7 linked regions of the Homo sapiens genome follow. The protein of the gene in region 1 interacts with the protein of each later gene in a pairwise test. Each region holds a gene or a part of one and is shown on either strand. Other genes may lie near its edges.

The links.
Region 2: the proteins of GSN (region 1) and LONRF2 interact in binary tests that used the Homo sapiens proteins (3 or more experiments, as listed by UniProt).
Region 3: the proteins of GSN (region 1) and AKIP1 interact in binary tests that used the Homo sapiens proteins (3 or more experiments, as listed by UniProt).
Region 4: the proteins of GSN (region 1) and ITPRID2 interact in binary tests that used the Homo sapiens proteins (3 or more experiments, as listed by UniProt).
Region 5: the proteins of GSN (region 1) and NDEL1 interact in binary tests that used the Homo sapiens proteins (3 or more experiments, as listed by UniProt).
Region 6: the proteins of GSN (region 1) and FAM83A interact in binary tests that used the Homo sapiens proteins (3 or more experiments, as listed by UniProt).
Region 7: the proteins of GSN (region 1) and HBEGF interact in binary tests that used the Homo sapiens proteins (3 or more experiments, as listed by UniProt).

What each region holds. Positions count from the first base shown.
Region 1 is NC_000009.12:121,274,662-121,278,161, forward strand, and holds part of GSN (gelsolin), read left to right. Parts: intron 1-3,500. UniProt on the Homo sapiens protein: Calcium-regulated, actin-modulating protein that binds to the plus (or barbed) ends of actin monomers or filaments, preventing monomer exchange (end-blocking or capping).
Region 2 is NC_000002.12:100,316,002-100,319,501, reverse strand, and holds part of LONRF2 (LON peptidase N-terminal domain and RING finger protein 2), read left to right. Parts: intron 1-3,500.
Region 3 is NC_000011.10:8,914,189-8,917,383, reverse strand, and holds part of AKIP1 (A-kinase-interacting protein 1), read right to left. Parts: intron 2,559-3,195; coding exon 2,454-2,558; intron 98-2,453; coding exon 17-97; intron 1-16. UniProt on the Homo sapiens protein: Enhances NF-kappa-B transcriptional activity by regulating the nuclear localization of the NF-kappa-B subunit RELA and promoting the phosphorylation of RELA by PRKACA.
Region 4 is NC_000002.12:181,919,230-181,922,729, forward strand, and holds part of ITPRID2 (protein ITPRID2), read left to right. Parts: intron 1-66; coding exon 67-217; intron 218-1,367; coding exon 1,368-1,433; intron 1,434-2,718; coding exon 2,719-3,183; intron 3,184-3,500.
Region 5 is NC_000017.11:8,452,884-8,456,383, forward strand, and holds part of NDEL1 (nuclear distribution protein nudE-like 1), read left to right. Parts: intron 1-1,912; coding exon 1,913-2,004; intron 2,005-3,500. UniProt on the Homo sapiens protein: Required for organization of the cellular microtubule array and microtubule anchoring at the centrosome. May regulate microtubule organization at least in part by targeting the microtubule severing protein KATNA1 to the centrosome.
Region 6 is NC_000008.11:123,189,165-123,192,664, forward strand, and holds part of FAM83A (protein FAM83A), read left to right. Parts: intron 1-2,638; coding exon 2,639-2,806; intron 2,807-3,500. UniProt on the Homo sapiens protein: Involved in mitochondrial maintenance during adipogenesis. May be acting by playing a role in the maintenance of normal mitochondrial function.
Region 7 is NC_000005.10:140,343,804-140,347,798, reverse strand, and holds the start of HBEGF (proheparin-binding EGF-like growth factor precursor), read left to right. Parts: upstream 1-1,195; 5' UTR 1,196-1,470; coding exon 1,471-1,516; intron 1,517-1,714; coding exon 1,715-1,888; intron 1,889-3,995. UniProt on the Homo sapiens protein: Growth factor that mediates its effects via EGFR, ERBB2 and ERBB4. Required for normal cardiac valve formation and normal heart function. Promotes smooth muscle cell proliferation. May be involved in macrophage-mediated cellular proliferation.

The sequences.
Region 1 (3,500 bases):
GATAGCTGCAGAGCAGGGTAGGGGTCAGCGGATGGAAAATTACTAAGAGGAAGCTCAGGAATAAGGGATATTCTTGCTAAACCGACCTAACAAAATTATTGATGAAGACAAACCAGGGTGATTCAAACATCAGTGGGGGCATGGTGGAGGATGAGGAGCCTGATCAGATATCAAGGATGAGGGGTTCTGGCTAAACAGACTTAGCAGGATTCTTTTGCTAAAACTGGATTTTACAAGGAAGTGCACAGGTAGGCCTAGGAGAAGGTTCAGAAGCCTGGCTAAAGTTTGGCCAAGCAAATAATCTGTGTCATGCTAAATTTTGCCAAATTTCTGCTCATAAAGGTTACAGTAGTCCTTATTCCTACCAGCCATCCGTGAGAATGGCAGCATTCTTCAGGAGCATCTGAAGCTGGTTATAAAAAGCTCAGCTGTCCTTTTATAGAATAGAGTACAGCGACCATTTTCCTGAAACGTTACATTTCATTCATTCATTTGGCAAATACACTTGCACAATTCAGCAGCAATAAAGCATAACAAGTTAAGATCCCAGGCCGAAGAAGTGGAGAGAACTTGGTTCTCCTTCTGGTTTATGTTTTGCACTTGCCCTAAGACCTTGAGGACATCACCTCACTGAGTTTCATTTTTCTCAGCTATACAGTTAGGGCTTCAATACCCACTTCACAGAATTCTACAAAGTACCTAACACAATGCTTGGCCAGTGCAATCATGTGGATGCTGGGAATTTGTATTATCTCATCTGACTCCAAAGAGCCCTGGAAAGGAAGCAGGTAGGGACAGATCCTTCCCATTTCATGGACTCAGAGAAGAAACGGCCATGTTTCTTGGTGTCCTGAGCTTCACTTCAGGAACTGGTAGTCCAAAGGAACTGTATCGTTCAGAACGGAGGTAAAACAGGCTTTTGTGGGCTAGCCTGTATCCATCCCCCTCCCACCTCCCCTCCCACCACAGTACCTGTTTCTCTTGGAAGGCAAGTTCCCAGTTCCAGTGGCAGCCAGAATTCTTTCTATGCTCTTTTAGAAGGTGGGAGATGCCTGCCTAGACTGTTCAGTGGTCTTAAAAAAGAGACCATAAAATTCATGGTTGCATAAAATATAGTTTTCATAGATTTAAATTGCATTTTAAATGCACTAAGGCTTCATCTTTGAGCTTTTCAGAAATGTGGGATTTCAGACTCCATCTTTAGGGTTGCCTTATTTAGCAAATAAAAAACAGTGTGCCAGTTAAGCATGAGTATGGCCCTTGGAATGTTTGGGGCATAATTATACCAAGACATCTTATTGTCTTTCTGACATTTAGATTTAACTGGGCATCTCATGTTTTATCTGGCAACCCTACCCACCTTGGGTCTACTGAATCCAAATCTGGATTTTCACAAGATCCCCATGGAATTCGTGTGCGAATTCAAGTGTGAGAAGCATTGCATTGGGAGCCTTGCCATCAAAGCCCTGAATGAATCCTTTTTGTAACAAATCTGTTGGTAAAATATAATGCACTATTTATAAAGAGCCTGATTATTCCCAAATCAACCATTTGCACACATCTGTGTGTTCATGTGTTAGGTTTTCTTAATACAGGCTACCCTTGCACTGTTGTCAGTTGAAGGGAAGAATTCCTTGCTTTGGTAAGAAGCCCTAGCCCCTCTCAAGGACCTATTTTCCTCATCTGTAAAATGGGCTACATCCTTAGCATCCGTGCCAGCCTGTGGTGACCAGCTGAGGTGGCCCCAAGGGGATGCATGGCTAGAGCCCACGCCAGGTCCCTCCTCAGCCTCCTCACAAAGGACCGAATGACTTGGCTCTGTGATCCCATCCCCCAGAGACTTTGGTGTGACTGTGGTGACCCTTGGCATAGCGCACCCCCCCGACTGCCTCCTCATCTCAAAACTTTCCAAACCATGACTTTTATAGCAGGGCTTTAGGAATCGCCTGGCTCTACCCTCTCACTTCATGGCTACAGATACTTGTGCCCTGAGAGAGCAAGTGAATTTCCCAAAGCCAACAGCAAGCCCTCTGATTGCTGCTCTACCAAACCAAAATGATTTCAGTTCTCATGAAACCTAAGGCCTGACTAAGGAAGATTAAGAAACCTGGTGGTGGTCGGGTCCTGTAGTGGGGTGGGAGGAGGGGGGAGGGATAGTATTAGGAGATATACCTAATGTAAATGACGAGTTAATGAGTGCAGCACACCAACATGGCACATGTATACATATGTAACAAACCTGCAGGTTGTGCACATGTACCCTAGAACTTAAAGTATAATAAAAAAAAAAGAAAGAAAGAAACCTGGTGGTGGTCATACGCCTAGTTTGTCTTGGTTGTGTGGTCTTGGGTAAGTCATTTCTCTCTCTAACCTATTCCCTGCCCCCACCCCTCCATAATATGGGGAATACACATTTTCCTGTTCCCCTAGGTCTCCTTTCTACCTGGTTAAGGTTTTATTTTAAGATCCAGTGGTAGATCTTGGTCTGTCAATTGGTCCTAGAGTGGAATGCTTTATGAAATCACTGGTACATGTGTTAGGTCAGAGACTTAATACCATGACATCATGAAAGATGTCTTTAGACCCTTTCTCTCCTCATTGCTAACAAAGATTTTATGAACTGTGTTTCAGCTGGACAAAAAAGATGTTCTAGAGCATTCTAAGATCGCCTGGGGCTTTTGTTAAAATGCAGATTCTGGTTCCACAAGTCTGGGGTGGGGCCTGAGGCTCTGCATTTCTAGTGATGCTGATGTAGCTGGTCCAGGGATCACACTTTCAGTTGCAAGATTTGAAAACAATCTGTTATTAGTGTAGAATCAATACTTATGAGATAAGGGACTTAAGAGGCAAGTCCCTTGTTCAGGGCTAAAGACCCAGTGACAGTAATAGGGTCTAGCCTGGAGCCCAGATCTTTTAATGTCTTGTCTTTGACATCTGACTTATCTGTCTATTTTATCTGCAGCTATGAGTTTCTAGAATCTGAACAGCCCTTAAAATACTTTGCTGCTTAATTATGTAGCAAAGTAGGTTCTTCTTTAGGAAAGAGAGTGACTCAGTAGAAAGCCATTGGAAGGGGGAGAAATACAGCTAGCATTTGATCAACCCTTTCACCAGAAGTTTTTATACTTGAGATTATAAACATTCTTTCTGTATTTATGGATGCAAACTACAGTCCTGGGGAGGCCCCAGTCTGTTTTTGTATGCCTCTGAGCTAAGAATGGTTTTATAGTTTTAAAGTGTTGTTAAAAAACAACAATAACAAACAAACAAGGAAGAATATGCAACAGAGAGGGTGTGTAGCCTATGGAGCCTAAAATATTTACGGTCTGGCCCTTTTACAGAAAAAGTTTGCTGACCCATGATCTAGAGTACCCAAAGATTTGCATGTTCTTTTTTTTTTTTTTCTAGTCAGCAAGAGGCCCAGCCTTATAGCTTTGAAATATAGTGAGGTCAAGACGTAGGGGAGGCAGCCTGCGTTGGTGGGAACTGCCCAGACATCT
Region 2 (3,500 bases), on another chromosome or scaffold:
ATTGTGAGGAAGTATGAGAGGGATCTGTGGGGTAGTGGTGATGTTCTGTTTCATGATTTAGGGGATGGATACACAAGTGTGTTCACTTTGCAATAGTTCATTGCACTATATACTTATATTTTTAGCTTTTCTGTATATATATTAGACCTAATTTAAACGTTTTTAAAATAGGCTATTTCAGTAAATTCATATGAGAACTTATATAGAATGTATTCATTTTTCTATTCAAAGATTAGCTTAAAATTTTATGAAAACATTTAATTTCAAAATAAATTAGCCCTTTTAAAGAGGTTTTGATATAGTTAAAAAAAAAGTTCACAGATGTTTGGAATCAGAAATACCTGTGTTTAGATCCAAGCTCTGACTTTTTTTTTTTTTTTTAAGACGGAGTCTTGCTCTGTCACCAGGCTGAAGTGTAGTGGCGTGGCTCTACAACCTCCGACTCCCTGGTTCAAGCAATTCTCCTGCCTCAGCCTCCCAAGTAGCTGGGATTACAGGCACGCACTACCATGCCCAGCTAATTTTTGTATTTTTAGTAGAGACAGGGTTTCACCATGTTGGCCAGGATGGTCTCAATCTCCTGACCTTGTGATCCGCCCGCCTCAGCCTCCCAAAGTGCTGGGATATCAGGTGTAAGCCACCATGCCTGGCCTTTTCTTTTTTTTTTTTTGAGACAAGGTCTCGCTCTGTCACCCAGGCTGGACTGCAGTGACATGATATCGGTCACTGCAACCTCTGCCTCCTGGGTTCAAGGGTGATTCTCGTGCCTCAGCCTCTCAGGTAACTGGGATTACAGGCATGCACCACCATGCCTCGTATTTTTTTTGTGTGTGTGTTTAGTAGAGACGTGTTTCACTATGTTGTCCGGGCTGATCTCCAACTCCTGTAGTCAAGTGATCTGCCCGCCTCAGCCTCCCAAAGTGCTGGGATTATAGACATGAGCCACCACACCTGATGTCTGATGCTTATTTATTATGTGACCTTAGCGAAGTGTGGTAGTCATTAGTGCTGGTCTATCTCTATACCTTCCCCAGGCAAGGTAGGATTGCACTTCCCGCTCCACTTGTGATTAGGTGGAGCCATGTGACTACTTTTGGCCGATAAGTTATGAGTGGAATTTAAAATAACTAGTACGTATGTTGAAAGAGGTAAATAAATGTATGAAAATATAAAGCATTCAGAAGACAATTGTCCATAAAAAAGAACCAAGTGGGTATCCTGGAAATTCAAAATACAATGTCTGAAGTTGAGAATTAGATTTGTTACAAACCAGATGGCACACATCAGAAATCTGAATGAGAAAACTCAGAAGCAAGTTAACAGAAAATATCCAAACTGAATCACAGAAGAAGACTAAAAGAGAGCATGGGAGTTATGTGAGACACAGACAAAAGTTCCAACATCGATGAAATTGGAATCCTGGAAGAAGAGAGAGGGGAAGGGCAAGAGAAATATTTAAAGAAAAAAGTAATTGAGAATTTTCCAAATCTGATGAGAAACTTTAAATCACTGAATCAAAAAGTTCACTAAGCCCAACAGGGTGGACACAAGTGCACACACAAACATACACACAAAACCCATCCAAGTACATTATAGTCAAGTTCCTGAAAATCAAAGATAAAGAGAATTTAAATGCATTTAGAGAAGACAGGACATATTTCCTTCGAAGGAATCATAGAAGACTGACAGTTGACTTTTAGACAAAATTATTGAAGCTAGAAGCTAATGGAATAATGTCTTTAAAGTGCTGAAAGAAAAAAAAAACCTAGCTGGAATTCTTTACCTGAAAATATTTTTCACAAAATCAAGGTGCTTTAAACCAAAGAAATAACTCAAGCTAAAGGATTTTATTACCATCAGAATTGCATTTCATGATATACTGAGGGAAAGTCTTCAGGCTAAAGGAAACGTATCCATATGGAAGCGTGAAACTAATGCACAGAGTAAAGAGTGCTAGAAGGTGTAACAATATGAGACAATATTGACTATTTCAAATAACAATAATAATGTCTTGTGGTATTTGTAACATACATAAAAGTGAAAGATATGGCAACAGGACAAAGCCAGAATGGGTAAATACAGTTAAATTGTTGTATGGTTTGTACACTGTTTTGGAGGTAGTAACAGTACCAATTTAAAGTAGACTGCTAAATCAGGTTTGCATATTCTGTTGTCTTGGGTAACCACCAATAGGAAGGTAAAATTAAAAAAAAGCTATAGTGGAATAGTAAAGTAATACTGGATTAATCCAAAAGAAAATGGGAGGGAAGAATAGAGAAGGAGAGAATAAGTGGGACAACTAGAAAAGAAATAGAAAAATGGGGATTTAATTTACATTAAATGTGAAGACCTAAATTTCCCATTTAAAAACTAAATGTTGGCAGATTGGATTAAGTGAAGTATAGCTACATGCTGTTTACACACGAGGTAAACTTTAGGTGTAAGAACACAAAAAAAGGTTAAAATTAGTAGGATGGCAACAAAGACTGACAAACAAAAGCCTGATATGGCAAAGTGACTATCAGATAAAGTATTCTTTAAGGCAAGGAATATCAGAAGAAATAAAGACATTTATGATGAATGGGCCAGTTCAACAGAAAAAAAATGTGTAATAATATGCCTAAATTTTTATGCACCTAACAACAAGTGTACACACACACATATGGAGAGAACAAAAGGAGACAAAAGCAAAAGGGGAAATAATTGGAGATGTTGAACAAAACTTTTAGTAACTGATAAAGTAAGGATTGCAAAATAAGTAAGGATATAGATACAACATACTTCAGCACTTAGATTTAATTAATATGTGTCACTACATACAACTACTGCAAAAACATAGCCATTTAGGCTCCCATGACCATAGGCAGAGCGTTGGAGTTGGCCTGTGGTTGTGTTTGCCAACTCCTGGATTAGGCCATGAAAGAAGTCGTAATAAATATTAAAAGATTGAAACCAGACTGTATATGTTCTTTAAACACTGTGGACTTAAACTAAAATTAAATAGCACATAAATAGAATATCTTCAGATATTTTGAAATTAAGCAATATATTTTTATATAATGATGGGTAAAATGAATCACAACATAAAGTAGAAAATTTTCTAATTATCTAATAATTATTAGAATTATTAGAATTTCTAATAATTATTAGAAAATTTTCTTTCTTTTTTTTTTTTTTTTTTTTGAGATGGAGTCTCGCTCTGTTGCCCAGGCTGGAGTGCAGTGGCACGATCTCAGCACGCTGCAAGCTCTGCCTCCCAGGTTCACATCATTCTCCTGCCTCAGCCTCCCCAGTAGCTGGGACTACAGGCACCTGCCACAACGCCTGGCTAATTTTTTGTATTTTTAGTAGAGACAGGGTTTCACTGTGTTAGCCAGGATGCTCTCGATCTCTGACCTCGTGATCTGCCCGCCTCTGCCTCCCAAAGTGCTGGGATTACAGGTGTGAGCCACCGCACCCGGCCAGAAAATTTTCTATTTTGCCTGAATGATAATGAAAAT
Region 3 (3,195 bases), on another chromosome or scaffold:
GCAGTTCCGTACTCACAGGCTGGGATGCCTCTGGAGCATGCTCTGATATTTGATAGCTGCCTCCAGGACCAAGGGATGTCTTTTTTCTGTCTTTTCTCTGAAGAGACAAGTAGAACACTGATTTGTGCCCAAGCTTTCACTTTTGGATTGTAAAGAGAAGTTCTCTTCTACCTTATTAGGAGTTAGTAATTGTTCTGTCAGCTTTTTCTAAGTTGTCATCTAAGTCATTAAGGCATTTTTAAGTGAATTCTGTGAGGTATTTTTAGTCAGGTATTTACTATAATTTTCATCCTTACATGGGCTTTGGAATCAGCCACGCCTGAGTTTAAGTCCTATCTCTGCTATTTACTAAGACAGATTAACTTCTCTTGAACCTTGGTTTTCCAGTCTGTAACATGGCACTCTTGGATTGCAGGGAAAATTTAAAGTGCAAAAGTGGCACTTAGGCTCTCAATACATTCTCTTCTGTGCTTCTTCTAGGAGTGGGGGTGGTCCTAGAAGGGAACAGGCTGACTGATAAAGCCAATTTCCCTTAGAGGGAACTTACATTTTAAAGGGAGAGATGGGAACGACTCTTCCCCACATGTACCTAAGTGCACCCTTTAGGGTCAGGTGCGTTTAGGTAAGAGTTCAGGCTAGGCCAGAAAAGGGGGCTCAGGACTCAAGCTCTGGCACCACTACTCACCTCCCAGGCCAGGGGAGGCATGTGGGAGGTGCTTCGAGTGTGCACTCAGCCCTTGCTCATGTCCCTGTGCCCACTCTCCCATCCTTTTCCTAAACTTCCTCCCTCTAACACCCCAAAATGGCTGACAGACCAAAGAAGTCAGGAATCCAACTTAGACTCTGGAATAGACTCTGGACTTCAGTTTGCTATCTTTGAGTACAAGTAGGGTAGGTTAAAACAAAAGCAAAAACCTAGTCTCCTCAGAAACCACCACCACCACCTCCTCCTTTGAATCAGTTCAATAAGCAGAATCTTTGGCTTCCCCAGAATGACATGTGGTAAAAGGTAAGTTTGTAGTGAGAGGCCCGTAACTGTTATTACCTTTACAAAAAGTATTTTGTTAAAAGAGACCCCCGTCCCCACACTTCCCTTGTACTTTCTTTTTAAAAATTATGAAAGACAGGGGCCAGGCATGGTGGCTCACGCCTGTAATCTCAGCACTTTGGGAGGCTGAGGCAGGCAGATCACCTGAGGTCAGGAGTTCAAGACCTGCCTGGCCAACACGGTGAAACTCTGTCTCTATTAAAAAATACAAAAATGGGTCAGGCGCGGTGGGTTACACCTGTAATCCCAGCACTTTGGGAGGCCGAGGCAGGCGGATCACGAGGTCGGGAGATCGAGACCATCCTGGCTAACACAGCGAAACCCCGTCTCCACTAAAAATACAAAAAATTAGCCAGGCGTGGTGGCAACGCCTGTAGTCCCAGCTACTCGGGGCTGAGGCAGAAGAATGGCGTGAACCAGGGAGGCAGAGCTTGCAGTGAGCTGAGATTGTGCCACTGCACTCCAGCCCGGGCAACAGAGCAAGACTGTGACTCCACAAAAAAAAAAAAAAAAAAAGAAAGAAAAATACAAAAATTAGCTGGGCTGGTGGTGTGTGCACGTAGTCCCAGCTACTTGGGAGGCTGAGGCAGAATTGTCTGAACCTGGGAGGCAGAAGTTGCAGTGAGCCGCGATCGCACCACTGCACTCCACCTTGGGTGACAGAGTGAGACTCCCTCTCAAAAAAAAAAAAAAATTACCAAAGACATGACAGTTATCACCTTATAGTAAAAAATGTAATTATTAAAAATCTTTTCCCCCAGCCTGGGCAACATAGCAAAACCCCATCTCTATTAAAAACATTAAAAATTAGCTGGGTGTGGTGGCATGTGCCTGTAGTCCCAGCTACTTGGGAGGTTCAGGTGGGAGGATCACCTGCCCAGGAAGTCAAGGCTGCAGTAAGCCATGATTGCTCCACTGCACTCTAGCCTGGGTGACAGAGTAAGACCCTGTCTCAAAAAAAAAAAAAAAAAAAAAAAGAAAAAAAAAATCCTATCCCTAGATGTAGAAGAGGATATTTAGAGCTCTTTTAAAAAAAAATTAGAGAAAGGGTCTATGTTGCCCAGGATAGAATGCAGGGGATAGTCACAGGGGCGATCATTGCATACACCACATTCCAGGCTTGGAAGCTCTTTTCTTTAAACCTGCTGGAGAATCCCATGGCCCAGGACTGCAGGTTCAACTAAAGATCCTACAGTGGCATCAATCTTATATTTTTGACAACCTCCTATTTCATGTTCATTGCTGTAAGTTCTCTAAGGCTATGAATTTACACATTTCTGTTAAGCACTGTAATGCCAAGTCACACGGGCATCCAGTGACACAAAGTCTAGCAGGGGCTCTTGAATATAGGGTGTCATATCTTGGTAGACTGAAGGCATGGTGCAGGACAGTTGAGTACACTTACCTGACCATTCCCTATGTCCAAGCACATGTGCAGCTTCGACTCGCCTCTGTGATAACGATAGACATGGGTTGCCCCTCCTTCCTCTGGCACAGATGAATAATATTTCTAGAGACGTAATGTCAAAGATGTTAGCTAACCAAATTGTCTTGTCAAATTTTCAAAAAACCCTGATATTTGGGCAAAGTGCAGTTAAGGAGGGAGGCAAGAGAGCAAAGGTGAATTACCTGCCCTCTTGACAGGCCTCTGAAGTCATGCAACAAACCTTAGCCCACCCAAAGTGGCTGCAGAGAAAGAAATGCATTTGGCATCCCCGTGCTGCCACCTGCTGCCTCCATAGGGCAAGAACGCTGGCTAACTAAAGGTGGGCAGGACCATGCTCTCTGCCAGGTTAAACAAATTTCACATCTTTGCCCCCATGTCCAATGCACATATCCTTTCATTTCCTCCCCTAAAAAATGTGGATGAACGGTTCCATGTTTATTGTCTAAGTCTCAGACCAGGACACGGGAAGAGAGGGGTACATTTTCCTGAGATTTAGAAACACAGCAGGAAATGAAACAAACCCAAGAGCTGCTCTGCAGCCCTTTTCTCTGTGCTTCCTGCGCGTGGGGGAGTGGAGGGAGAAGTCTCTAATTTAAGAAGAATCTTCCGAAAGATCGGAAAACAGTTACATTTCTCTTGTCTGCTTCCTTCCTCCCCCTCAAAGTTAGCCTTAGACTTGCCCTTGATAATGACTAATGAC
Region 4 (3,500 bases), on another chromosome or scaffold:
AAGATTTGTGATTAGGAATCTCCAAACTGCATTTTTCCAATTTTGTGCCCTTCACCATACCAATAGGTTTGAAGTTGATCAGCTCCAGGGTTTGAGAAATTCAGTCCGAATGGAACTTCAGGACCTGGAACTGCAGCTGGAGGAGCGCCTGCTGGGCCTGGAGGAGCAGCTTCGTGCTGTGCGCATGCCTTCACCCTTCCGCTCCTCCGCACTCATGGTACGCTACCTGGAGGGTGGTCGGAGTTTTCACCAAAGGTTTATTTATAATGTTCCAATAATTTAGGACGTGTGCCTTCATTTCAAGTCATTTATTTTAATGGTATTAAAAGCATGCATACTGTTTAAGGAGCTTTCCCACAAATCAGTTGAATGTACAATTTGTAATAATTGTCATAAATAGTATATTTAGAAATATGTTGAAAATTTTTAATGATAAATTTTAATAACAGGAAAGAATAAGGGCTTATACGAAAGTTGAGGGTTTTTAAAGGAAAAATGCTAGTGAATTAACATATGACTAATGTAAATTTTAATTGTTGCATGTAACTGCAGAGAACACAGATGCATATTTTGCTGTTTTTTTTTCTTTCATGCCTTTAAATAAAAAAGTGTTCCTTTTAAACTTTTTCTTTATTTTGGATTCTTTTCCATTTGTTTTTAAAGGAATCAAATGATACCTGTATATTTTCATACATATATATACATACACATACATATATGTATTTTCCTAAATATATAGATATATATCCAAGAGAATAAAAAGAAACATGTTTTTGTACCACTTTTCATACTTCTAATGTTTCTTTCCATAACATTTGAACTTCAACAGTTGTATTATTTTTGCAAATATCTTTGAAGTTGTAGAATATGTTGCTTTGAAATGCTGAAATAGTGAATTATTCTTTGTTACCTTAACAATGTATTTGATTTTGTTAAAAAGAAATGGATGAATATACACACATACAATTATGTGTGTATATACTATAAATGAAGTAGAATAAACAATGGTGTATAAACACATATATGTATAGCATAGACTAAGGATGTTCTGTATTGCTAATGAATGTACTTTTCAACATGGTTTTGATTTATCATTCTGAGAAGTGTATGTTGGTGACGGGAGAACTAGAACATCCTTTTTGCATATTGTATCAGTTTTAACTCACAATAATGCATTTTATGGGATCTGTGACACTTGAGAGTAACCTTTGTGACATAAAGGGATGCTTCCAGGCACTAATTAGCCAATTAATTTTATTATAAAAGTCTTGTGATTTGAAAAAATATATATGTACATTATAATTATATATGCATGTATGTATATATACACACACATATACATATATATATTGTTCTTACCTTTTCAGGGAATGTGTGGCAGTAGAAGCGCTGATAACTTGTCATGCCCTTCTCCATTGAATGTAATGGAACCAGTAAGCTTCTTTCCTCTTAAATCACTGGGGAAGGGAATGATACAACATTTCAGACACATAGTTTCCCTAGTTTAGATGAAATATATGTTTATTTTAAATACATAATTTGATAAATTATTGTTGATTGGAAGTGACTTTCACCTTTGAAAGTCCATTGCTGTCTGAAGCCACTAGAAAGCCACCTGAATTGCAATAGTGATTTATCTTTCTGACTAAAGGAGGTAATGCACCATAAAAACATGTACAGTGGCTCATGCCTGTAATCCCAGCACTTTATTTAAATGGTTGAGGTGGAAGGATTGCTTCAAGCCAGGAGTTTGAGACCAGCCTAGTCAACAAAATGAGACCCTTTCTCTACAGAAAATTTAAAAATCAGCCAGGCATGGTGATATGTGCCTGTAGTCCCAGTTACTCAGGAGGCTGAGGCGGGAGGATTGCTTGAGGCCAGGAGCTCAAGGCTACAGTGAGCTATGATTGTGCCACTGCACTCCAGCCTGGGTGACAGAGCAAGACCCTGTCTTTAAAAAATAATAAGCCAGGTGTGGTGGCTCATGCCTGTAATCCCAGCATTTTGGGAGGCTGAGGCAAGTGGATCACCTGAGGTCAGGAGTTGAAGACCAGCCTGACCAACATGGTGAAACCGCATCTCTACTAAAAATACAAAAATTAGCTGGGCATGGTGGCAGGCATCTGTAATCCCAGCTACTTGGGAGGCTGAGGCAGGAGACTTGCTTGAACCCGGGAGGCGGAGGTTGCAGTGAGCCGAGATCAAGCCATTGCACTCCAGCCTGGGTGACAGAGTGAGACTCCATCTCAAAAAAAAAAAGAAAATTGATTTTTAATTTACATTTCAGGAGACATGTGCTTTCACAGTTTGATCCTGGTTCTTTAGGTAGTTAGAGCTGTAACATGACCACGTTTTTAACAGAAATCTGTCTTTATTGTGTTAGACAGATTGGTTCATTTGGGGGCAAAAGCACTATGAGTAACTATTTTTCACTAGTTACTCTTCCTTACAAGTGATTTGGACACTTTGGTGGTAACAAGTAAAATTTCATCCTACTATGTATTCTGTTTACCTGTTTTGTTGCTTCATCTCAATAGGAATTTAAATTTTACTTACCATTTTTGCAAATAAAATTGAGTAGTTATTAAATTAATGGAATAGATTTATGTCTTTACAAATTACATGATTTTAGGCAATAATGACAACCAGGACTTTAACCTTTTTAGCTACCAATCTTAATTCCAAGAGAGAAGAATAACATTTTTTTATGATCTCCAGGTCACTGAACTGATGCAGGAGCAGTCATACCTGAAGTCTGAATTGGGCCTGGGACTTGGAGAAATGGGATTTGAAATTCCTCCTGGAGAAAGCTCAGAATCTGTTTTTTCCCAAGCAACATCAGAATCATCTTCTGTATGTTCTGGTCCCTCTCATGCTAACAGAAGAACTGGAGTACCTTCTACTGCCTCAGTGGGCAAATCCAAAACCCCATTAGTGGCAAGGAAGAAAGTGTTCCGAGCATCGGTGGCTCTAACGCCAACAGCTCCTTCTAGAACAGGCTCTGTGCAGACACCTCCAGATTTGGAAAGTTCTGAGGAAGTTGATGCAGCTGAAGGAGCCCCAGAAGTTGTAGGACCTAAATCTGAAGTGGAAGAAGGGCATGGAAAACTCCCATCAATGCCAGCTGCTGAGGAAATGCATAAAAATGTGGAGCAAGATGAGTTGCAGCAAGTCATACGGGAGGTGGGTAAAATCTGTGTTTCATTCATTTATTTGGAGGTATATGTTAGAGGAGATTTTGTCTGAATATTAATTATTTACAGAATGTTCTTTTGATTCACTGTATTCAATAATTTTCACAGAGCTTTTAAATTAGCTTTCCTGTTGATCAAGTTTGTGTCAATTAAGATATATTTGTAATGGCATTTCTGCAAATTTCATACTCTAATGTGAAATAATTACAATTCTCTGTGTTCAGTATGGTGAAAAAGATATGTGAAGGACTCAAAATAAACATGACGTACTCTTTGGACCTCTTGTTTCCACATCTACAAAATGAG
Region 5 (3,500 bases), on another chromosome or scaffold:
TGTGTGCCACCACACCCAGCTAATTTTGTATTTTTAGTAGAAATGGGGTTTCACCATGTTGGTCAGGCCAGTCTCAAACTCCTGACCTCAGGTGATCCACCCACCTCAGCCTCCCAAAGTGCTGAGAGTACAGGCATGAGCCACCATGCCCAGCCTACAATGTTTGTTTCTAAAAAGCATTTAAAGCAACTTACCATAAAAGCACAGATTTAATAACACCTAAAATGTAAAACTTGAATAGGGAAAAATGAGATCTAGAAATCCCTGCCAAGAACAGTACAGCGGTTTTTTATATCACGTTGAGCGCCTGTTATGTGTCATGTGTTATTCTGGATGCTGGGAGCACAGTGGTAAGACAAAGCCCCTACCTTCAATGAGATTATATTCTTGAGGAGAAGAAGGATAATAAACAACAAAAAAGCCACACAAGTATTTTCGTTGCTGATTAGCACTCTGTGGAAAACAAACATAAAAAATAATAGCTAACCTTTATTGAGTACTTACTACGTGCATTTTTAAAGTACATTAATTTAAACTTCACAACATCTTTATGATGAGGTAGTTGTTATTTGCCCCCTCTTACATATGGGTCACTTACCCAGTGGCTGAACTGGATTTGAATACAGTAGTTCAGCTCAAGAGCCGTTAATCATGATGTCATATTATCTCTTAAAAATTAAGAAATGTGCACGACTGAAAACCTTACTGAGTGTGGAAGAAGATATGGGTAAATATCATGGTAAATACTATGATTCTGAATGGGAAGACTTAATTTTCTTACAATATCCATTCTCCCCAAGTCAATCTGTAATTTCAACTTCTAATAAAAATCCTAATAGGATTTAAAAAATTGATATGTTGATATTAAAATTATTTTGGAATAGTAAATGTGCAAGAACAGCTGAGAAAAATTTGAAATGGGCTAATAACAAGAGGGATCTTTGCCTTTTGAGATCTCAAAATATATTTTAACATTATAATAAAGTAGCATACTTCTGATAGAATAGGCTAATAGTTCAATGGAACTGAAATATATTCATATATTTAGGGAATTTAGTTTATAGTTATAGTGCTATTTCAGATGAGATGAGTTTTCCCTAAATGATACTAGGACAATTGGCTCTCCATTTGGAGGAAAAAATTTAGATATGTATCTTATAGACAACTATAATTTCTAGGTGAATTAAATGATCTAAATGTAAAAAAATCAGAAAAATACTAGGAGAAAGTATGGGAAACATTATGACATTAAGATGGAAAAGCCAAAGGTTCTCCTACCGAAACACAGTGTTTACAAGATGAATGTCACGCTGAGAGATAGAACATCTATAAGAGAAAGGGTGAACATCCAGAATGTATAGAGTTCTTACAAATTGATTACAGGAAAGACAAACCAGTAGAGAAATGTACAAAGACTAAACAGCTGATTTTCAGAAGAGATTCAAATGACTAGTTACTATGGAAATAGAAACTAAAAAACGTGACTATCAAATTGTCAAAAAAAAAAAAGATAATATCTAATATTATCAAGGGCACCACCGCATAGATTGCTGATATTAGCACAGGCTTTTTAGAGAGCATTTTGGCAGTGTCTGTTAAGGTGAAAAAAATGGGCATATGTTCTGACCCAGCAGTTCTATTTTTAGGAATCTCTTTTCCAGAAATACTTGTCTAGATGTTTAAGAGTATATGTCCTTGTAGCATTACTTATAATGGCGAAAAATTTGATATAATGTAAATATCCACCAATTGGACAGTGGTTTAGCCTATTTATGGTATCTATACTTTATCCATAGTTTGAAGTAGTTTGTTGATATTGTATTGAGTGTTACACTACTTTGTAACATCAACAACAAAACCCAAATGTAAAGGGAACTGCAAGTGTAATCACTCAGCTTTTATTTTTCTCTAGCTATACCAAATGGTTTTGGTACCAGTCCACTAACTCCCTCTGCTAGGATATCAGCACTAAACATCGTGGGGGATCTCTTACGGAAAGTAGGGGTAAGTTTCAATTATTTATCACTAGGTGTTTCCACTGACAAGGTATTGAATTATTTCTTAATTTGAAGTGAGGGAAGAAAGAAAGGATACTTTCCTGTGGTAAAGGCTGTCATGAAGCTCAGAAGCAAAAGCATCCATTGACTAGCCAAGTCCAGATGACACTTCATGATGCCCCTGCAGAAGAGCCTGTACCTTGAACTCTGAGGTTCCCACCGGGGCATTCTTCCTGTTCCCCACTCCTGTTTCAACAGCACGATGCCTCTGTCCTTGTCTAGAATACTTTGTCTAAGGCCTGCTGTGTGTCTTCTACCACCCTCATCCTGGTCTTTGCTGCTGTCTACCGTCTTCCTGGTCATTCCTTTGTTTTGTGTTTGTGGGACTTTAACATTTGGCTCATGGCATTACTCTCTACTTTTAGTCTTGCCCACCTTATTTCCTTGGCCACCTCAACTTCAGTGCCTTCTCCTTGGTGTGAGCCTTGTATTCCAGAACAGTTTCGCTTCTGAAATATTAAACCCAGCCGGACGCGGTGGCTCACGCCTGTAATCCCAGCACTTTGGGAGGCTGAGGCGGGTGGATCACCTGAGGTCAGGAGTTCAAGACCAGCCTGGCCAACATGGTGAAACCCTGTCTCTACTAAAAATACAAAAATTAGTCGGCATGGTGGCAGATGCCTGTAATCCCAGCTACTTGGGAGGCTGAGGCAAGAGAATCACTTGAACCCAGGAGGCGGAGGTTGCAGTGAGCCGAGATCGAGCCACTGCACTCCAGCCTGGGCAACAGACAGCAAGACTCCATCTCAAAAAAAAAAAAAAAAAAAAAATTAAACCCGTTTTTCTGCTTAATCAGTGTGTTACTGTGTACCATACCTACTCTTTAACCTCATCAAGAGTATTACCCCATTTTTTAGTGTGTTTGTTTTTATCAGCCATCTCTTGCTTTCACTTCCTTTCTATTCATCTGTGATCTCACACATCTCTTACTCTGTCACTGTTGACTTCATGGTCTCTCTGGCCACAAAGGAGATCTGCAGTCTGAATTACTGGAAACAGTTGCAGAACCATGTGGATTTATGCCACTATCAAGTCAGCATTTCTAGCATTAGCTCCCATTACTATTTCCCTTAGTGAGTTTTACCTCTCCTTTCAGTAATCAACCATTGCCATTTCCCACTATCTACTACCCCCTTCACTTATTTTCGTGTGTGACACTTTCTAAAAAATGTAGAAATTGCATTATACTTTATCTAAAGCAGATATGGGAGGCCAAGACACAGGTCCTATGTTTGCCTGTTTCAGCTCATCATAGGGGTTATTTTCTAACCATCAGATTAAACCTGCATTTTTAAGGTTAAAATACAAAGTAAAGTGCACAGGTCGTTCCTACAGTACATAGAGTAATCTTTCTTCACTCCCAAGATAACCATTTTAAAATCCTCTATGTTGGAGTATTTGTCTTTATAACTTGAAATCATGTGCTTATTTTTCTGTTTATCT
Region 6 (3,500 bases), on another chromosome or scaffold:
AATTAATTGTGTGATTACAGGGCCATGGTTCTAATGATCACAGCCTCATTATTAGAACATCTTTTCCGATTTCCTGCCCAGGGTGAGCAATCTCTGAGGAGTTCCCTCCCCTGTCCAGCTATCCATCCACATCACAGAAAGTTGATTCCAAGTGGATACCAGCCATCAGTTTGGCCTGCCAGTAAGACACCTCTCTTTCCTTGGCTACTTCCCAGATGGCGGTGGTTTTAAAAAATATATTGCAATGATTAGAAAGATAGTGGAAACTTATTATTACAGGTAATCTTGAAGAAAGGGAATGGCCGTATTCCCTGTGAAAGGAAAGTATCTTTGGCCCCCAAAATCACTAAGGAAAACTCAAGCTGGAAACTGCTTAGGGCAAACCTGCCTCCCATTCTATTCAAAGTCACCGCTCTGCTCACTGAGATAGATGCATATCTGATGCCTCCTTTGGAAAGACTAATCAGAAACTCAAAAGAATGCAACAGTTTTTGTCTTACTTATCTGTGGCCTGGATGCTCCCTCCTGGCTTTGAGTCTTCCTGCCTTTGCTTCCAGTTGTCCCACCTTTCCAGATTGAACCAAAGTACTTCTTACATCTATTAATTGATGTCTCATGTCTCCCTAAAATGTATAAAATCAAGCTGTGCCCCGACCACCTTGGGCACATGTCGTCAGGACTTCCTCGGGCATGTCCTCAACCTTGGCAAAATAAACTTTCTAAATTAACTGAGCCCTGTTTTATTTTCTGGGTTCACATCCCCCATCCTAACATGACTGTTAGTTTTTGCTTTGGGCTTACCTACAATCATGTACGGAATAATGACATTTTGGTTACTAACAGACCACATCTATGACAGTGCTCCCATAAGATTATAATGGAGCAGGTGGGGTGGCTCACTCCTGTAATCCCAGCAATTTGGGAGGCTGAGGCTTAAGGATTGCTTAAGCCCAACAGTTCGAGACCAGCCTGGGCAACATAGTGAAACCCCATGTCTACAGAAAAAAAATGAAAGAGAGAGAGGAAGAAAAGAAAGAAAAGAAAGAAAGAAAGAAGAAAGAAAGAAAGAAAATTAACATTTTAAATTTTTATGTATTTTCTTATTTTTTTATTTTGAGACAGAGTCTCTTTCTGTCACCCAGGCTGGAGTGCAGTGGTGCGATCTCGGCTCACTGCAACCTCTGCCTCCTGGGTTCAAGCGATTCTCTTGCCTCAGCCTCCCCAGTAGCTGGGACTATAGGCGTGCACTACCAGTCCAGCTAATTTTTTTTTTTTTTTTTAGTAGAGACGAGCTTTCACCATGTTGATCAGGCTGGTCTCGAGCTCCAGATCTCAAATGATCCGCCCGCCTCGGCCTCCCAAAGTGTTGGTATTACAGGCGTGAGCCACCGCGCCCGGCAGTAATTAACATTTTTAATGACTGCCTAATAAGCTGCTTGTCAGTATATCACAATTAAGGTATTAGAAAGGACTCATGACTGGGTGACAGAGAGTAAACCCAAACAAGCTTAAGAAGAAGAGAAACATTCATTAACATCCACAGTGGAAAAGTCAAGGGTGGCACTGGTCTCAGGCATGGCTGGAACCAGGTGTCCAAATGACAATGCTGGGACTCTGTCTCTACCTCCTGGCTGCTTTCTCCAGGGATGGCTTCATTGTCAGGCAGGCTCTCCCCAAGAGGTAGCAAAAATGGTTGCCAGCAGCCATTGCTTATAAAATACCAGCTAAGCAACCTCGTAGAAAGAACACCTCCTTTTCCCAGGAGTCCCAGCTAAAGTCCTGGGCTGACTCTTATTAGAATAACTTAGATCATGTGACCACCTCTGGACCAATGTCTGTGGCCAACAGGGGATGCCATGCTCCCATTGGTCTAGCCTTGGTCATGTGGTCTCCCCATATCCAGTCAAAGAATGGCAATAGACCCTTCCAAACCACATTGATTGTGGAGGGGAGGCAATTACTTAAAGTCAGATTGGGATGCTGTTGACAGAAGAAGGGAGAATGAATGCTTGGCAGGAGGAACACAGATGTCTCTCCTGCTCACTGAAGGTCTAGAACTCCCCTCCCCAGTTTCTACTGTGACACATGATGCAGTAGCTGTGGGTAGAGCGTGACTCCCTTCTCCATCCCACGGGGAGCAGCTTGCTCTAGGCGCTTATATACGGTGCCTCCACATGGGATTTTGTTTGAGGATAGGATTCCACGGCTTAACAGCATTTGAAAATCAGTGGCCATAGTGTGCCCTCTAGCTCCAAGTGGCTGAGAATCCATAACCTTAACTTTATTCCTCTTCTGGAACCGGTTGAGATGCTTCTTCTTGTTCTTCTCTGCTCTCCTTCTCTTTCTAGACTTTTCCCTTCCTCCTCTGCACTCCCCACTCCCACAATGGGCATAGGGGCCAACAGATAGGTGGTGGGACTGGAGAGATGGTATCAGGACAGGCGCAGGGGCCTCCACTCCAGCTCTTCCTTTTCCTTCCATTAATCCTGCCCAGTCAGACCCACTCTACCCCATCCTCTCCCCTCTGGCCCAATGGGAACAGCTCTCCCAGGCCCACTGGGACTCAGGCAGTTTGGGTGAAACCAGTTAGCACCTGCCCCTGACCTTTCTGGTAACTGAGCACTCTGCCCTGGCCCAGGTCCTGGTCATCCTGATGGATGTGTTCACGGATGTGGAGATCTTCTGTGACATTCTAGAGGCAGCCAACAAGCGTGGGGTGTTCGTTTGTGTGCTCCTGGACCAGGGAGGTGTGAAGCTCTTCCAGGAGATGTGTGACAAAGTCCAGATCTCTGACAGTCACCTCAAGGTAGGGGCCCCAATGAGAGTCCTAAGGGTACTCATATTAGCCCAGATAGGATAGTCTATGCAATAGTAACAAATGTCCCTCATCTTGTGTTAATAGCTTAACACAATAAAGGTTCATTTCTTGCTCAAACAAACTCCTATGTAGGTCAGATGGCCCTCCTCCATATTGTAGCTACATCATGAGAAATACACGGCCTCTAAGATAACCATGACAGGGAAAGAGAAGGCTGGGAGACTCTGCAGGATGTTTCCAGGATCTGACCTGGAGGAGATTTCCATCGCTTTCTCTTATAACTCATTGACCTTACCCAGATGCACGGATGCTGGGAAATGTAAAGGGTCATGGGTATCTGGTGAGCAGCATCTCTGCCATGTACTCCAGTTCTCCTCTCAGCTGGGGAAGCCCAGGGATTGCATCTTACAGGGCAGGCAACCTCCAGGGTCTGTGGGTGCATGTTCAGAACTCCCTGGTCCCAACAAGACATTGATCCTCTTGGACTTAACTGAACCCCGTACTTCCCTCTCCTGGCAAAGAGAAAAGAAACCCAGCGATAAGGGTTTGATTCATCACATAAATTTGAGGACAACTAATTCAAATGTGAACACCACCCATAGCTTTCATGAGTAGGCCTGGGTGAACAGCTGATTGGTGGCCCTCAGAGTTCTTTTGATCAGTCTCCTCTAGTTCAGGCAAG
Region 7 (3,995 bases), on another chromosome or scaffold:
TCTTGTCCAAGGTCACACAGTAAGTAGCAAAGGCAGGATTCAAACTCAGGTCTGTAGTGATTCCAGTGCACTATGGAAACCTAGGCCTAGGTTACTGGAGCAAGTTAAGAGGGCAGGGCCAGACTGACCCCTGCAAAGGTGGGGATAGGGAGGGACAGTGGGATAGACTGTGTATAAATAGCAGGCCTGTTTTTATCCCTACACACAGGCAGAATCCGGCAAGTGCTCTATCTGGCACAATTTCAGGGCTCTGAAAGCCAACCCAGCCCTGTGTCAAACAACTCTCTCCCCAGCACGTCCCTGGAAACTGAAATACCTACTGAGACACTCATTTCTTTGGGTCAGGACAGTGACTCCAGAAGACCCCTGCAAAAGCACATGGGTTGGAAGAGAAACACCTAGTGTCTGTGAAACAGCAATCTAGGTTAGCCAGCTGGGTCCTATGGGAGGGTGGCTCATTTTTTATGTTGAGGAAAAAGGTGGCAGTCAAAGGCAAGGAAAAGAATAAGGCTTGTTTCACAACCTGTGTCTCTCCAATCTCAGAAGCCTGGGAATTACAACCCATAGTTCAAAAATCCTAATGTCCCCTGAGGGAAGATGGGAGGAAGCCACTCCAGAGACTAAGAGAGTACTAACTTCCTTTGCTTTTGCTGGATTGATACTAAGTGCCTGCAACTTCAACTCTGGTTATCTCGGGTTTATGAGAACGGCTGGCATTCACGTGTCTAATTTTTAAATGATAGATGAATTAATTATTATTTGATACTTGCCGTGTTGGTAGGCCAAAAGGTGGGCTTCTGAAACTTAGAGGGTGACAGGGATGGAGACCCCTGGTATGGGGCTTAGATGAAGCAAGAGGCCAGGCCCGGAACAGAACTCAGCTCAGCAGTCAGTCACAAGGCTGCAGAGTGACAGGCGTTTGGGGAAAGGTAGGAACCGCTCTCCGCCACCTGCCGGTCAGTAGCCCTACCCACAATCAGGCCGCGGCTGCCTCGGCCTGGTCCCAAAAATTGTGAACGCCGCCCTCTCCTCCCGCCCAGTCCTCCGCCGCGCCCGCGGGGTCGGGGGCTGCGCTGCCGGCGCCGCGAGCCGGGCGAGCTTCCCAGCACGGGAGGAGGGAGGGGGCGGCGCCGGGCGGGGCGGAGCTTCCGCGCCTCCTGGAGCCTTATTCCCGGCCGCGAGCCGGGCAGCGCTCATTCGGCCGAAGGAGCTACGCGGGCCACGCTGCTGGCTGGCCTGACCTAGGCGCGCGGGGTCGGGCGGCCGCGCGGGCGGGCTGAGTGAGCAAGACAAGACACTCAAGAAGAGCGAGCTGCGCCTGGGTCCCGGCCAGGCTTGCACGCAGAGGCGGGCGGCAGACGGTGCCCGGCGGAATCTCCTGAGCTCCGCCGCCCAGCTCTGGTGCCAGCGCCCAGTGGCCGCCGCTTCGAAAGTGACTGGTGCCTCGCCGCCTCCTCTCGGTGCGGGACCATGAAGCTGCTGCCGTCGGTGGTGCTGAAGCTCTTTCTGGCTGCAGGTAAGAGGGCTGCCGACGCCCCCGGAGATCGGGGGGATGGGGGCGTTGTGCTGGGGGCATGGGGGAAGGTCGCCGCAGCGCACCCGGCACGGGCCACTTGGTGGGGCCCTTGCGCTCTGGCGGACGGGCGTCGGCATCGGTGCGTGTTGGTCAGGGGTCTGGGCGGGTGTCTGATGCGGCCTGGCCTCTCGCCCGCAGTTCTCTCGGCACTGGTGACTGGCGAGAGCCTGGAGCGGCTTCGGAGAGGGCTAGCTGCTGGAACCAGCAACCCGGACCCTCCCACTGTATCCACGGACCAGCTGCTACCCCTAGGAGGCGGCCGGGACCGGAAAGTCCGTGACTTGCAAGAGGCAGATCTGGACCTTTTGAGAGGTGGGTGTGGAGGCCCCCCATCCTTGGACCTTGGTGGGCTGTTGAAGAATAAGCAGATCCAAGATTCTTGCTGTTTGGGCAATACTGTGGGTTGAGGGTATTCATGGAGAACCTCGGGGAAAAGCTGATCGGCCTGATGGGCACTGGGGGATCCTGGAATATAGGTCCCACTCTCTCTCTCTTGTCATTGCCTCACCTGCTGGGTTGCTGCCCTTCTGGGTACTCCGGGGCAAATTGAATCAGACGTGTTGTCTGGGGTTGTTACGTTCTTCTTAGGTAAGCTGGGTGATAGGAACAAGGAATGGTTGAGATGCTTTCCCTAGAGCTACTATGTAAAAATGGGCGCCAGTTCTAATTCCCATATCAAATGACTATTATATATAAAATAGAGGTAACACATGCGGAGATGCCCAGGCACATCTCTAGAAAGTGTGCAGTGTTGGCCTCCTCCATCCACCTGTCTCCAGATTGGGGAAACAGAGGGGAATGAGGAGCTCTTGGCCGCCCTAGATGAGGCTGTGAATGGTGAGCACTGAGCCCCTAGGGGGCTGTATTAAAATGCTGGATATCTGTGAATGCTACCGGAAACCTGCAGCTTACTGAGCACCTTGCATTCCTGAGGAGACTCCAAATGGGGAGGGCTGTGTAGGATCCTCCAACCAGCCTCTTTGGCTGTGGCCAAGTACAGGTACAGGGCAGAGTCCAGAGCCTGCCAGCTCTCCTGCCTCCAAACCTGAGGAGATTATCCAGAGTAGAGCAAGGACTCAGCACTGTACCCTGGAATGACTATATTTGGTTGGACAGATGCCCACCTGTTCTAGTTCCACCTGCTCCTCAGCTGCCCTTCTCCCTCATTCCCAGGAGCTTTCCTTGGATACTCTCTCTACTTTGTATAAATCAAGCACATACTCCAAAACTGAGCCTGGGCTCCCATACTTCATCCTCTCCCAGTGGCCCTCTGGGGTTGCCCATGACCTGAACAGCCTGGATTCTCCTGGCCCTCTCCTCCTAGGCTGGGCAGGGCTGGGCTGTGACTCACCCCACCCCCACCCCCCACCCACACGGCTGCTCCTCTTACCTCTGCAGACCTGACTCACTGCTCCCTGTCCATGGCAGGAGCCTGGCTGTCACCCTGCACCTTCTCCCTCCCCTTTCTGATTGGCTTGGCCCCCCTGCCTTGCTCTCCCCGAAGCTCTGGTCACTGGGTTCCTCTGACCACCTGTATCACCTTCTGAGCTCTGAGGGGGCCTGGGACTGGATGAGAGGAAATGAAAGACTGTGGGGGCTGCTGGCACCTACTTCTCTTCCCTTCTTTTGGCTTTGCTGGGCAAGGACTATTTTTCAGGTCTGGGGATCCTACCACCTAAAATAAATGACTGCTACCATTTATTAAATTCCTACTGTGTTCTAGGCACTTGATATGTTATCCTGGCTAATGTAACACTTATAGCAACCTTTTGAGATAGTTACTTTGGCTATCCACATTTTACTGAGAACCTGAGGTTCAGAGGAGTTAAGTGACTGCCCACAGTAAATAGCTGAAATTGGAGCACAGGTCTATGGACTTCAGAGCCCATTCATGCCTGGATCAGCATCTCAGGTGCTCTAGACTTGTGAGAGGGAGGAGATGGGAGTGTGTGAGGCAGCTTGGTGTGGTGAGGAAGGACATTGGAGTGAAGTCCAGAGAACACAGTTCTAATCCCAATCCTGCATGACCTTGAGTAAGTCACTCTGCCTGCCATGAGTTTTTTCTTTTTTTCTTTTTTTTTTTTTTAAACATAGTCTCACTCTGTCACCCAGGCTGGAGTGCAATGGCACGATCTCAGCTCACTGCAATCTCTGCCTCCCAGGTTCAAGTGATTCTCCTGCCTCAGCCTCCTGAGTAGCTGCGATAACAGGCACACACCACCACGCCCGGCTAATTTTTGTATTTTTTGTAGAGATGAGATTTTTGCCATGTTGGCAAGGCTGGTCTCGAACTCCCGACCTCAGGTGATCCACCTGCCTCAGCCTCCCAAAGTGTTGGGATTACAGGCGTGAGCCACCGTGCCTGGCCACATGGTATTCTTTGAAGTCCCTCTAGCTTGAGACTCTAAGTCTCTAGTCT